Homo sapiens: one gene and its partners. The protein of the gene in region 1 purifies or fractionates together with the protein of each later gene. This does not show direct contact. Each region holds a gene or a part of one and is shown on either strand. Other genes may lie near its edges.

Region 1 (3,500 bases):
GCTCATGCCTGTAATTCCAGCACTTTGGAAGGCCGAGGCAGGTGGATCACTTGAGGTCAGGAGTTTGAGACCAGCCTGGCCAACACGGCAAAACCCCATCTCTACTAAAACTACAAAAATTAGCCGGGTGTGGTGACGCAAGCCTGTAATCCCAGCTACTTGGGAGGCTGAGGCAGAAGAATTGCTTAAACCTGGGAGGTGGAGATTGCAGTGAGCCGAGATCACGCCACTGCACTTCAGCCTGGGTGACAGAGTGAGACTCCATCTCAAAAAAAAAAAAAGGTGGGGGGGAGGATGAGAAAACTGGGAGATGATGGATATGTACCATTATCTTGATAGTTGTTTTACGCAAATGTCAAAACTCATCAAAGTGTATACATTAAATATGTGTAGGTTATCACACGTCAATTATATATCAGGAAAGCAATTTTTAAATATCTTCATTTCTGTGAAGACAATTCTTTTATCACTACTAGGAATGTTTCATGGGGTCAAGGAGGTCATAGAAACAAATAGAATGGAAGGGTGGTAGAATAGAAAGGGTGCTAATGTACATCAATGAAACTTCAATATGAAATATATAGGTCCAAAATGCTACTCAAGAAAAAAAACATTACGGCAATCACCTGTTTAAGCTTCCTGATTAGTTCTCGAAGTTGAGCTTCCACACGAAATGCAGAAAATAAGCACCTCCAATGAATCCAGTGTTTTTGGCACCATGAAGCTGGAGCTCCACTGCAAAACAAAAAACTGGTATCTTTAAAATATCTTCTCTAAGTAAAAGACAATCTAAAATTCTCATTTCTATTACAAAAGTGGAAACCCATAAACAACTGTCAGTTCCTTCAGGAGACCTGTCCAAGTACTAAAAAAGAATTTTAGGAAACTTGAAAAAAACATTTAAATTAATGAATGTGCCCCTGACTAAATTAAAAAATAATTTGTAAATGGATTTCTTTACTTATATATGCAATAACAAATATCCAATCATTTTTTAATCTAGGCTACCTATATAGAAGCAAAATTCTATAAGGTCATTTTCAGTAAAGGTTTGAGGAGAAAAGAAGAGAATCAATGTTATATAATAAATGCCTACTAAGCAATAGTCATCTGACATAGATAATTTCACTGAAATTCAAAATACCTTGAAGTCAATATCATCTTCACTGAACGTTAGTGTCACAAGCCACATCATAAGTACGTATTGGAACTATACATCAAATTGACATTTTTCAGGACAAAGGACTACCTTACATACCTTGATTTGCATTGTTCAAAGATGACAGCTAAAGTTGCAAAGTCATTAAATCCTCCAGCTTTAGCTGCCAATTCTCGATGTCTCTGTTCTGCTTCCTTCTGGTACTCTGGATCAACTAAAAGAATTGGAGAGGCAATTCAGTTATACTTTGCATTAAGTGCCTACAATCACTTTGCTTTCAGAAACTCATTAAAATCTGCCTCATCCTCTGGGGTGAAGTAAGGTAGAACTATATTAACTCTTCTTAACTTCTCTTAGGAAGCTCTATTTCTCCCACAATTCCTTTTTTTCTTTTCATATCACTTTGGAGATTTTACCTGAATAGCAACATTACTTCTCCCAATCTATTTGCCTTTTAAAAATAGTATTTGTAATTTACTTTTTAAATTAGTTTTGTTATAAGAGTAATCCATGCTTACAGAAAAAAAAATGTAATGGTATAAAAGAATATCATGTAAAAGTTCAATGTTCCCCAGTCACACTACCCATAAACCAATCCTCAAGACAAAGTACTGTTCATTATTTAGTGTGTGTCCTTCCAGGTAATTTCTATGTATATATAAGCATATGTACATAGTGTTTCATTTTTCTATAAATGGAATATATAATCTGAAAATTTGTTTATTTAATAACAACTCCATATCAGTACATATAGAATTATTCTTTCTCAAAAATAGCAATATAGGGCCAGGTGTGGTAGCTCACACCTGTAATCCCAGCAATTTCAAAGGCCAAGGCAAGTGGATCAATTGAGCCCAGGAGGTCAAGACAAGCCTAGGCAACAAAGCAAGATCCTGTCTCTACAAAATATACAAAAATTAGCCAGGCATGGTGATGCATGCCTGTAGTCCCAGCTACTCAGGAGGCTGAGGTGGGAAGATCGCTTGAGCCCAGGAGGTTTTTTTTTTTTTTTTTTTGAGACGGAGTCTCGCTCTATCGCCCAGACTGGAGTGTAGTGGCGCGATCTCGGCTCACTGCAAGCTCCGCCTCCCGGGTTCACACCATTCTCCTGCCTCAGCCTCCCGAGTAGCTGGGACTACAGGCGCCCGCCACCGCGCCCGGCTAATTTTTTGTATTTTTAGTAGAGACGGGGTTTCACATGTTAGCCAGGATGGTCTCGATCTCCTGACCTTGTGATCTGCCCGTCTCGGCCTCCCAAAGTGCTGGGATTACAGGCATAAGCCACCGTGCCCGGCCCAAGCCCAGGAGGTTGAGGCTACAGTGAGCCGTGATCGCATCACTGCACTTTGGCCTGGGCAACAGAGTGAAACCTTGTCTAAAGAAAAAAACAATGATATGGTATTCCCCAGGAGTATGGGGAACATAACACAATTTAACCAGTTCTTATTTATCCAATTCCCAATTATGGGCAATTAGACATGATCTCCATATATGCAGAACTGACCTACTACGAACATTTTCTTTTTTAATGTAATATTGAAGTATAATATGCATACAGAAAATTACACAGGACGTAAGTGTGTAGCTCATATAATATTCACAAACACAACATACCAATGTACCCAGATCAACAAACAGTATCACCAGCATCTCAACAGCCCCCTTTTATGCCCTCCTTCGAGTAACTACCCATTCCCTTCCACAAGAATAACTATATCCTGACTTCTAATCCTACAGATGGGTTTTGCCCATTTTTAACCTTTGTATAAATGAATCGTATAGTATGTACTTGATGTGTCTGTTTTCTCTTGCTCAACATTACGTTTTTGAGATTTATCTGTTAATTACTTCGATACCACTTCCCCTGATCCCATTCAGGACTCATGTGCTCTCTGATTGCCCAAATTCCCCATACAGCACTTTATCCAGGGCTAATCTTTCAGAGTGCCATTTTTTCAAAACTGCATAGGGATCCTTTCCTTCAATCTAACACGTCACATCACAATTCCTATTCCCTATACCTATCACAGCTAGATCTAGCAGAGGCACAATGTTGCCTGAATCCAGGGAGCAGCATTTACTATAGAATACGATGTGAATCTGCAAAGCAGCAGTTCCTGTTACTAGGAGGAAAGTAATTTGATTAAAGAAAACACTGATGAAGGTATAAAGTCTTCTATCCCATGCTTTAAGTAGCTTCCAACTATGTTACCTAGGTAGCAACTGAATGAAGCAGCTAGAGACAAAAAAATAAAAAAGAATATGATTTATCTCAGACCATACAAACATACAAATGACCCTGGTAAGGAAAAGATATAAATGATTATTAATCTCCATTTCT
Region 2 (3,500 bases), on another chromosome or scaffold:
ACTGACCTTGCGGGAAGATGTGAGTGGCCTAGACTTTCTAATCCTTGACAAACATCAACACCACCAACTCCATTCCAGCAAGACTGCCAGGAAGACATGAAAATAAAGAAGCTAAACAATGCAAAATCCCAAGTGATATCAAGAGTCTACATATGTTTATTCAAATAACAAAATACTTGACCATCTCAACAATAATGTTCAGGAATGAGAGAGGAACAAAATCAAGAAAATATTACTAAGCTATTCATAATGAAAGGATTGGATAAAAAGATATTCTCCTAAATTTATACTACTACATAAAAACAAAGTTTCATTTGTCTCGACTTGTCAAATCTTTAGGATGAAATAAACCAATATCACCGCTGACAAATATAATAACTATGGTAAACAGGCATGCCAAAATCAATGCAGAGTTTCAGAAAAGGTCAAGAAACCAACCGTCAGCTTAAATTGGTTAATTTCATTAAAACTGTTAAACATGACAGGATGTCGCTAACTCCCAGGTTCTTTTATATGAGCAAAGTTGGATTAATTTGACCCAAATTTTGTATAATAGCTTTTCCAATTTCCAAAAATACATCAACTTTGTCACTGATCTTACAAATTCTGCTTTCCTTCTCTAGCTCTATCTCAAAAGAAGCTTCTCGAAGGCCATAAATCTTGACATAGTGAAAGCAAAATAATCACAGCACTCAACAGTGCCGTTAACATTTCTGAGCCGTGAGGGATTAAGCAGGCAGATGCTATGGAAAGTGCCTGTCAGGAAAGGACAGCCCAGAGTTCAGAACGCACCGCAGCTGCGAAGGATTGAAGCTGCTAGCTATGGAATCAAGCTCAGGAGAAACTCTGGGCACAATTCCGGCATCCGAAATAAATTAAAGTAAACAGTGTTGCTCTCTCTCTCATCCACCCTGTTAGCAGCCTCTCGGCTGAGCGGGAGACCACACACTCGGACCACACAGCGCCAGCTGAACTCCCTCGCACGCAACATCTACAAGCTGTCACTCTGCAGCAGCCCAGAGAGGGAGAAGGATGAGGTTAGGGAGGGGGAGACAGGACCGCAGGAAGAGGGGGAGGGGAGACAGGAGAGTCTTCCCTATGTGCAGCTGGAGAGAGTGATGTGTGGTTTAGAGAAGGGGGAGGGGTGGAATCCATAAACCTCCCTGAGAAAACAAGCTGGTCATGGCCTTGTGTAGTCTTGACCTGTACTCCCCCATACCAATTTAGTAGCTGATGAAGGATTAACAAAGCATCCATTTAACATCAATTAACCTCCTATCCATCACAGGTCAAAAGAGAAAATTACTATTACAAAAGCATTTCACTAAAATCAAGACAAAAGGCCACATTTTCTTACAATTTATACTGTACACTTAAGTAAATACATTTTCCTTATAGATATACTATATTAATTTTAAACCATCTGCCTCTTTTCCTTTAATGAAGCATACAGGGATGGATTTAAAGTGTTTTCTGCAACAGAAGTCAGAAAATTTTAATTCTATAATTTTCCCATATTTAATTTCTCAAATTAAAACTGTGGCACAATTTTAATTTTCCAAAATATTTACTACTAGAAAAAAAGACAGTAAGTTGTCATTTTTCACAGAACTTCAGACTAAAAATACACAGAAAAAGTTAGCAGTAATAATATAAAGAAAAAAATCAGAAATGAAACCACAACTGAAAGTAGTTTTAGAATCATAAAAGCAGTACTTTTTACTATTTAGTAATGAAGAGTTTCGCTGATTTCAACAGCAGACAAGAAATCTGAACAAAATGAGTGATCACGGTCTCACCTTGTCATGCTCCCAGATGTTCTTCTCAGCTAGAGAAGGCCAGGAACCAGAAAAATACAGAAGTTCTGACTCACTGAAGACTAGGATAACCTCTACTCAACAGGCCACGGAAGGCCTCATGATGTGAAAACACTATTTCGCTAACAGATCAGACTATAGAAAGGTGATTTTCCCCACAATCATTTGAAAACACACACACACACACACACACACAACCCTCCCAAACGTCCACCCTTCCCCATATATGCCTCAACCTGGCAGCACTGGCATCACCAGGGAACAAATCAAGCAGAATCTCAGTAGCCTTAGCTGTCCAGAACCACTTTGGGTCCAGAGGACCCCAGAAGAATCCTGTTGCAGAGCTGCCTAGTGAGTTTCAACAGTAAAATTAGGCTCAGCCAACTCTCAGGGCACCATAAAATATAATCAAAGTAGAGAATTCACCAAATCTTTCTAGAGTCAGGCCCAACCTAACCTAAGACAGACTTGTCCCTGCTGGGCTGGGTTGGGCTGGACCCAAAGGGATTGCCCAGAGATATTGGGGAAAGGGTTCGGGAAAATGGTGATTTTCTTCCCCAGTTCTCTATAAACACAGACTCCACACTTCCTGAGTGAGATCAAGTGCAAGTTACATTAGCACTGCCACAAATTCTACCATATAACAGCACACAGTGGGACAAGTCTCAGAGACAGGGTCATGAACTCTGTAATCCAGTTTTCCAAATTAATCCTCTTGCTCCTCCTGCTCCATCCCCAAATCATAGTTAACAAAAATACAAGCATGCACAGATCTGAAAGAACTCATAGGGGCCAAATTGTATAGAGTTACGGCCTGATAAGGGCAGAAGACTCGCTGGGTCTCAGAAGGGCCATTTGCAGAAGGGGAGGACTGAACAGGTAAGAAGTAATGTATCCTGCTTTCCTGGACCTCTTTTTTTTTTTTTTTTTTTTTTTTGAGACGGAGTCTTGCTCTGTCGCCAGGTTGGACTGAACAGGTAAGAAGTAATGTATTAATGTATCCTGCTTTCCTGGACCTCTTTTTTTTTTTTTTGAGACGGAGTTTTACTCTGTCACTAGGCTGAAGTGCAGTGGGGCTCACTGCAACCTCCGACTCCTTGGTTCAAGCGATTCTCCTGCCTCAGCCTCCCAAGTAGCTGGGATTACAGGCATGCGCCACCATGCCCAGCTAATTTTTTTGTATTTTTAGTAGAGACGGGGTTTCATCATATTGGCCAGGATGGTCTCAAACTCCTGACCTCATGATTCGCCCTCCTCGGCCTCCCAAAGTGCTGGGATTACAGGTGTGAGCCGCCGCGCCCGGCCTCCTGGACCTCTTTTTATACTTCTTTTCCTTCTCTACCTCTACAAACAAAAAAATACATGAACTACTATCTATGGTTTCAAATGAAAGCATATTTGTTTATATTTTAATTCTTTTGGGAAAATAATCCAATAATTTAAACCATATAACTGATAAATGACACTTGATTTTTATTTATTTATTTTAGGAATGGGAATAAAGGCCTTCCCTCCCTCTACAATGTTTGGAGGTGAGAGATTAAGGGGACGAGAATGTGCATGAGATGACTAGGAAGGAATACTGGAAGCCAGACAAGTATATAGGGAATGCCTGACAACTTAGCTCTCAGAGCCCCCATAAAAGAGATCTGTTATATATATACCGGATTACTCAGCTGTTCT
Region 3 (3,500 bases), on another chromosome or scaffold:
TGCAATGGCATGATATCGGCTCACCGCAACCTCTGCCTCCCGGGTTTAAGCGATTCTCCTGCCTCAGCTCCCTGAGTAGCTGGGATTACAGGTGCCTGCCACCATGCTTGGCTAATTTTGTATTTTTAGTAGAGATGGCGTTTCTCCATGTTCAAAAACAGAAAAGAAGGGCAAGATAGGAATATACATTACCTTTGTTATGGGTTGAACTGCACCCTCCCAAAATTCTTATAATGAACTACTAACCCCTAATACCTCAGAATGTGACCTTTTTTGGAAATAGGGTCATTGCAAGTGTAATTAATTAAGATTAGGTCATTAGGGTGGGCCCTAGTCCAGTGACTGATTTCCTTATAAAAAAGGAAAATTCAGCCGGGCACAGTCGCTCAGGCCTGTAATCCCAGCACTTTGGGAGGCCGAGGCGGTCAGATCGCTTGACCCCAGGAGTTCGAGACCAGCCTGGGCAACATGGCGAAACCCCATGTATATTTTTTCTCTACAAAAAACACAAAAATTAGCTGGGCGTGGTGGTGCACACCTGTAATCCCAGCTACTTGGGAGGCTGAGAATTGCTTGAGTCCAGAAGGAGGTTGCAGTGAGCAGAGATTGTGCCACTGCACTCCAACCTGGGTGACAGAGCAAGACTCTGTCTCAAAAAAAGGAAATTCAGACAATTCAGACACAGGCATACAGGGAGAACACCATGTGAATATGAAGGCAGAAATCAGGATGATACTTTTGCAAGCCATCACCAAAGATTGCCAGCATTCCATCAGGAGCTAGGGGAGATGAATGAATAGATTCTTCCCCACAGCCTCAGAAGGAACCAACCCTGCCAACACCTTGTGCTGGGACCTCCAGCCTCCAGAACCTTGAGACAATAAAGTTCTGGGGTTTTTTTTGTTTTTGTTTTTGTTTTGATTCGGAGTCTCGCTTTGTTGCCCAGGCTGGAGTGCAGTGGCGGGATTTTGGCTTACTGCAACCTCCACCTCCTGGGTTCAAGTGATTCTTCTGCCTCAGCCTCCCTAGTAGCTGGGACTACAGGTGCATGCCACCATGCCTGGCTAAATTTTTTTGTATTTTTAGTAGAGATGGGTTTCACCATATTGGCCAGGCTGGTCTCAAACTCCTGACCTCATGATCCATCCACCTCGGCCTCCCAAAGTGCTGGGACTACAGGCGTGAGCCACCGCGCCCAGCCAAGTTCTGTTGTTTAAGCCACCCAGTCTGTGGTACTTTGTTATGGCAGCCCTAATGAACTAATACGGGCTTTAAGCTATAAATCACTAAGGTTGGTTAAGTTAACAAATCATAACCCTCAAAAATGTTAACCCAACTTGAAAGAAGCTTTTGAAACTGTTTACAGTCCATTTCAGAAATAACAAAAATAGAAATAAATGCAATTATTAAACATATGTCATGTTAAATGACAATAAAGTTATTAAATAATAATTTATTTAAAAAGTATAACCAGTTTTCTTTGATATAAGTAACTGGGTCCCAAATGCTGGTAAAATGAGACAAGTAGGATCCTTCATTAATTTCTCATATCCATTTCCATCTGTTTTTTCTTTTTTTGTTGTTCCATGTGAAACTGAGAAAAAAAAATCTGCGTTTTCAACTTAAACAGTGGTCAACTTAATCTTACTTTTTTGGGAATTTGCTCGCACTCCAGTTTAATTTTCTCTTCTTGTGTTTCTTCAACTTCTGTATCTATTTCATCATCGATTCTGTAGCAAAAATATCAAATAACACAAAAGAGTTTTTTCAACCTGAAGTGTTCATACCACAGCGTTACAATTCACTGCTTTGGCTTGTCTTCAACTTACCCTCAAAGAAATTACAAATTCAAATTCTATACCAAATACTCCAGAAAATGTACAAAATTATGATGACCAATAAATGTCCATATATATTTATGAATAGCCTGTAAAATTTTAGATTATAAAGCCTTAATGTTCAAGTATTAGCAGCTATATAAATCATTCATTCATCCATCATTCCATTAATTCAACAACTACTAAGTACCCACCATGTACGAGGCTCCGGGCCTTAGGCCCTGGACTACAACAATGAAAAATACAGACCCTGTCACTGTGTTCTGAGAGCTTTCTATCTCCTTGGGAGAAAAAAATAAAGCTATTTCAATATGGTATGGTAAGTATAGGGGCATATATGGGGAACACAACCCAGACTTGGGGATCAGAGGCATTCAGAGCCTAAATGATACTTATGAGTTAGCCAAAAAAGAGGAAAGAGGAATGTGAGAGAGAAGGGTATTTTAGGCAGAATGCAGAGTGCCTTTTGAGATTAGGAGCGAGACAAACACATTTAAGTGTAAAGATGAAAAAGAAAAACTGTTTTCAGACTTACAGGACTGAGAAGTTGACCATGCATATATATAACAGTCTGAGACAATTACTTGAGGCTATTCCAGCAAAACTAAATATGAACCCAAGAGGGATGGGAAATATAAGAACATGGTGAACAAAGAAGACAATAAAATGTATAGATGTATCTGAATAATGGTTGATACTAGAAATATAGGGAGCTGAAGAAAATATTATCTTAGTAAGTGGTGACTATTGAACACAAGATTGGGAAAAGCTGTGAATTAAAATATGAGTTACACACCAGATAAAGGCAAGGAATTGGGGAATGTGTCCCATCTCAAGAGAACATGTTACAAAGGGAAAGCACTGACAGCACAAGGAGAATGTGAACAGTGGCTCCGTGGCTGTTCTTTCAAAGTTACAGGAGCTCAGGCTTCACAGCTTTGTCCAATTCAACAGTTTACACTGACTCAGAGCTCCAGAGTTACATCCATCAGATGAGGTACTAAGTTGTGAGCCTGCTACAGAAGCCACCATTACAAGAACCAAAAACCCCAATACTTGTGAATCTTTATAGCTATAGTTTCCAGTAATGAATCATCTCATGGAGTAGGAGGCAACCTCTCCTTAGGCAGAGGAATAATGACAATAATGACCTCAATAGCAGTAACAGCATCAGCCAACACTTGAATGATGCTTACTCTGTGCCAGATGCTGCTCCATACACGTAACACTTACCACAAACAACAGTGTTATGACATACATACTAAAAGCCCATTTTACGGATGAGAAAACAATCACAGAAAGGATATGTAACTTGTCACAGAGCTAATACATGGTGGAGCTGAGATCTGAGCCCCAGCAGGCAGGCAAAGCTCCCAAGTATGTGCCCTACAATCACACTGTTATTCAACACTGCCCATTCTAAATAGATGTCTACTTTCACTGTGAAGGTCTACAATACTCAGCACCCATATTAGACCTATGAGCAGGATAGGACAGAGGTGACCACCTCTTCTCTGTAAAACATGTTCTTTACTTAGCTTCAGAGATAGTGGGCTCTTCTAGTTTCTTCTTTCCACAGCTACTACTTCTCAGTCTCCTTTGTTGGTTCCTTATCTTCACAACTTTCAAAGTCAGTTCTCACCTCTTCTCTTCTTTGTCTAT
Region 4 (3,281 bases), on another chromosome or scaffold:
GACGCCCATCTTGCAGTGGACCAGCACGTGGGTGCCCTGTGCTCTGTGGAAGCAGGCCAGGTTCAGCACCCTCCCCTCACCATGAAGGATCCCGCCTCCTGCAGGGGAGGGCAGGTGAAGGGCTCACAACCAACTGAGAGTAGAGAAGGAGGGAAGGACACTGAGGGCTGGAAGGAATGGCACAGCTGATGGCAGAGTGGGCAGGAGGAGGGCACCGGAGGCCGCTTGAAGCCACAGTGGGGCAGGCAGCAAAGCCAGGAGACCGACCTTGCAGCCTCAATGAAGCGGTGCGTCTCCTTCCAGTGCGGCAGCAGCTGGGCCGACTCCTCATCCCAGAGGCGCACATTGTGGTAGGTGAAGCGCTCAGGGTAGAAGTTGTCAATCTCCCGGGCCATGTTCAAGATGTGGGTGACCCTGTCCCAGAGGGCCCAAGGCCAGGCTGATGTGGGCAGAGGTACCAGGCCCACTGGCAATCGGACCTGGCAGCCCCTGGGCCTCGCTTTAGCTCTGAGTTTCAAGTCAGATGGAGGCAGCAGTGACAGTGGGAGGAGAAGTGACCCAGCTGTCACCTGGCTGCGACCTTAGACCAATCATCTTGCCCTGCTGGGCTTGTTTCCCCATCTGGTCCAGACAGCTGGGCCAACTGCAACTCCAGCCCTTCAGTTATTCTCAGAAATGAGTTAGAGAACAGCTTTTGAGCTAAGCTGAGAGTGGGTGGGTCTGCAGCAGTGGGTGGCAGGGGCTACAGCAGGTCCCAGAAGCCCATGGTGGGCAGATGACAGGTACCTGTCAGAGCAGGCAGCCAGGTCCCCACGGGGAGAAGGGCAGTTCCTTCTTCCCTGAGACAGGGCAAGGTGGAGAAAAGGCTTTTTCTCTCTTTCTTTTTTCTTATTTTTTAGAGACAGGGTCTCTCTCTGTTGCCCAGGCTGGAGTGCAGTGGCGTGATCACGGCTCACTGCGGCCTCAATCTCCAGGGCTCAAGCGATCCTCCTGCCTCAGCCTCCCAAGTAGCTGGGCCCACAGGCGCATTCAAGAGGAGCCTTTTTCTGCTTGTCCAAGGCAGTTACAGCAGTATGCGCTGCTGCTTCTCGTCTTGGCGTGGCTGAGGCCCTTTGTTTCTGTCCTTGTTTCACAGTGTGGATGGGGGAGGAGAGTGGGCGGGGGCTGGCCAGCAGGTCTCCTGTCCCCACCTGGGAGCCCACACCAGGGCAACAGCCCCAGGACAGAGTTAGAAGCAGAGCTAGCAGCTGCTGAGGGTGGTCCAGGGGTTTTTGAAGCTGGCTACCACCCAATGCGGGGAGGCCAGGAGAAGGGAAGATGGGGTGGGTGGCCCGAGGGGCTCATAGCCCTACCTGTTCCTCTGCAGCTCCTCCAGGTTTGCTGCGTTCCACTCTGAGCCCTGGGAGAGAGGGAACAGCACATTTCTCCTCTCCTCCAGCCTCTGCTCCTGGCCTGCCGCCCTCACAGCTGCCAGCGGTCCCCATGGCCCAGGCCTGGCTGAAGCTCACCAGGTAGAGGTGGGGGAAGATGCGGGAGGCTCGGTCCCGCTGTGCCACCAGCAGCAGCATCTGGTTGTCGATGAAGTCACGGTACTGCTGGAGGGGGAGCCCCAGGCGCAGCTCCAGAGCCTGGCGGATCTGCAGGCAGAGCCCAGGGCAAGAGAGGCTGGGGCTCTCCTAGTGCCCAACCTGCCACCTTCCCTCTGGGACCTCTGAGGACAGCACCCTATCCCATCTAGATGGATTAGGGCCAAGGCCAAGGCATCCAGGAATGGCTCAGGACTGGAGACAGGCAAGGTGGGGAGGGCTCCCAGGAAAGGCAAGCTTGCAGCCCCTGCTAGAGGGGACTCAGTCCCCGGGCCCCCTGCCCACCTCTTTGGAAGTGACACTCTCCAGGTCACTGACATCCAACACTTTCCACAGCTCAGCACGGATCGCCTGCTCCATCTGCTCCTGTTCTGAGGACCTGGGAGCAGAGCCCCTCAGTCAAGGGGCCCTTTCCCCTCTCCACCATGCCCCCCACTGCATTATCCTGCCTTCCCCTCCACCCAGTCCCTCCCCTCCACACACTGACCCGCCAGGCTCGGCGCTGGGAGGCCGCAGAGACTCCAGGTCGGCCATAGCCGTCCACTCATTGAGGCAGCTCTGTTCGGAGTTCAGTCTCTCCTGGTAGTGGCTGGCCCAGGTGAGGGCACTGCCACCCGGTACAAGGCCGCTGCCTAGAGCTGCCTCACATGCTTGGTGCAATACCTGGAGTGTGGCCCTGAGACAGGAGGAGAGGCTGGGTCACACTGTTCCCTTGCTGCCCTTCCCCAGGCCCTGCAGCCTCCTTCGAAGGAGAGGCTGGCCTGAGTCCAGGCAGTCTCTGTCCTTACCACATGGTCTGGATGGAGATGGGCTTGAAGATCCGGCTTTGCCCACCAGACGTCACGCTGAAGCCCCTGCAGGAGACCAGGCACAGGTGAGGCCAGACTCCAGGCTCTGCGACAGAGAACCCATCCTTTTGCTGGATACGGGAAGCCGAGACCCAGGAGTCAGGTGCCTTGCTCAGGATCACGGTGAATCTGACGTGGAGCTGGGAGCAGGCCCCAGAGTCCCAGCCTAAAGTTCTACTGTACCCTGGTGCCCAGGCCCCGTCACATCCGTCACACTCAGTTATTCCACCCTCCAGCCCCCACCTCCAGTTGCCATTGCTTACCCGTCTCCATCTAAGTACACCTGGGTGTCACTCCAGAGGGGCAAGACCAGGCCCAGGGTGCAGCTGGGGGAGCTGGCAGGGGACAGAGGGAAAGCCATTGTCCCCCCTGTCCCTCACCTCTTTGCCCCTCCTTTCCTCTCCCTGCTCGAACCTGCTGTCAGGGAAATCCACGCCCAGGAGGACCGTCTCATCCTGGCTCAGACCTTCTCCTTCTCGTGTAGAAACTACCAGCAGGTAGCGGAGCCGGGGAGGCCGGGGTGCCTCCAGCTGGGCTGCCTGGGGGGAGATGAGGAACCCAGGGTCACAGTGGCCCCAAGGACCCTGCTCCCCACCTAGACACCCCAGGCCCAGAACAGTGCTGACCCTGCTCCTTCCTCTCCCATCCCCCCTCTTCCCAGATGTAAAATCAGTGGGTAAAGAGGGACTGTGTGGAAAAAAGCGGGGAATGGGACTGACATAGGTTGCACATTTTTTGTTTCTGCTGAGGAAGGAGGTTGTTTTTGTTTTTGTTTTGAGATAGGGTCTCACTCTGTCGCCCAGGCTGGAGTACAGTGGCACCATCACAGCTCACTGTAGCCCCGAAC

The links. Proteins that work in one complex are often made in the same cells at the same time.
Region 2: the proteins of DHX40 (region 1) and EXOC2 fractionate together in Homo sapiens (co-fractionation; one large-scale study listed by BioGRID). This does not show direct contact.
Region 3: the proteins of DHX40 (region 1) and ZC3H8 fractionate together in Homo sapiens (co-fractionation; one large-scale study listed by BioGRID). This does not show direct contact.
Region 4: the proteins of DHX40 (region 1) and SSH3 fractionate together in Homo sapiens (co-fractionation; one large-scale study listed by BioGRID). This does not show direct contact.

What each region holds. Positions count from the first base shown.
Region 1 is NC_000017.11:59,596,610-59,600,109, reverse strand, and holds part of DHX40 (probable ATP-dependent RNA helicase DHX40), read right to left. Parts: intron 1,374-3,500; coding exon 1,259-1,373; intron 736-1,258; coding exon 627-735; intron 1-626. UniProt on the Homo sapiens protein: Probable ATP-dependent RNA helicase.
Region 2 is NC_000006.12:683,140-686,639, forward strand, and holds part of EXOC2 (exocyst complex component 2), read right to left. Parts: intron 1-3,500. UniProt on the Homo sapiens protein: Component of the exocyst complex involved in the docking of exocytic vesicles with fusion sites on the plasma membrane.
Region 3 is NC_000002.12:112,248,543-112,252,042, forward strand, and holds part of ZC3H8 (zinc finger CCCH domain-containing protein 8), read right to left. Parts: intron 1,731-3,500; coding exon 1,649-1,730; intron 1-1,648.
Region 4 is NC_000011.10:67,306,530-67,309,810, reverse strand, and holds part of SSH3 (protein phosphatase Slingshot homolog 3), read right to left. Parts: intron 2,974-3,281; coding exon 2,849-2,973; intron 2,770-2,848; coding exon 2,698-2,769; intron 2,441-2,697; coding exon 2,375-2,440; intron 2,263-2,374; coding exon 2,074-2,262; intron 1,966-2,073; coding exon 1,872-1,965; intron 1,638-1,871; coding exon 1,509-1,637; intron 1,400-1,508; coding exon 1,353-1,399; intron 415-1,352; coding exon 268-414; intron 44-267; coding exon 1-43. UniProt on the Homo sapiens protein: Protein phosphatase which may play a role in the regulation of actin filament dynamics. Can dephosphorylate and activate the actin binding/depolymerizing factor cofilin, which subsequently binds to actin filaments and stimulates their disassembly.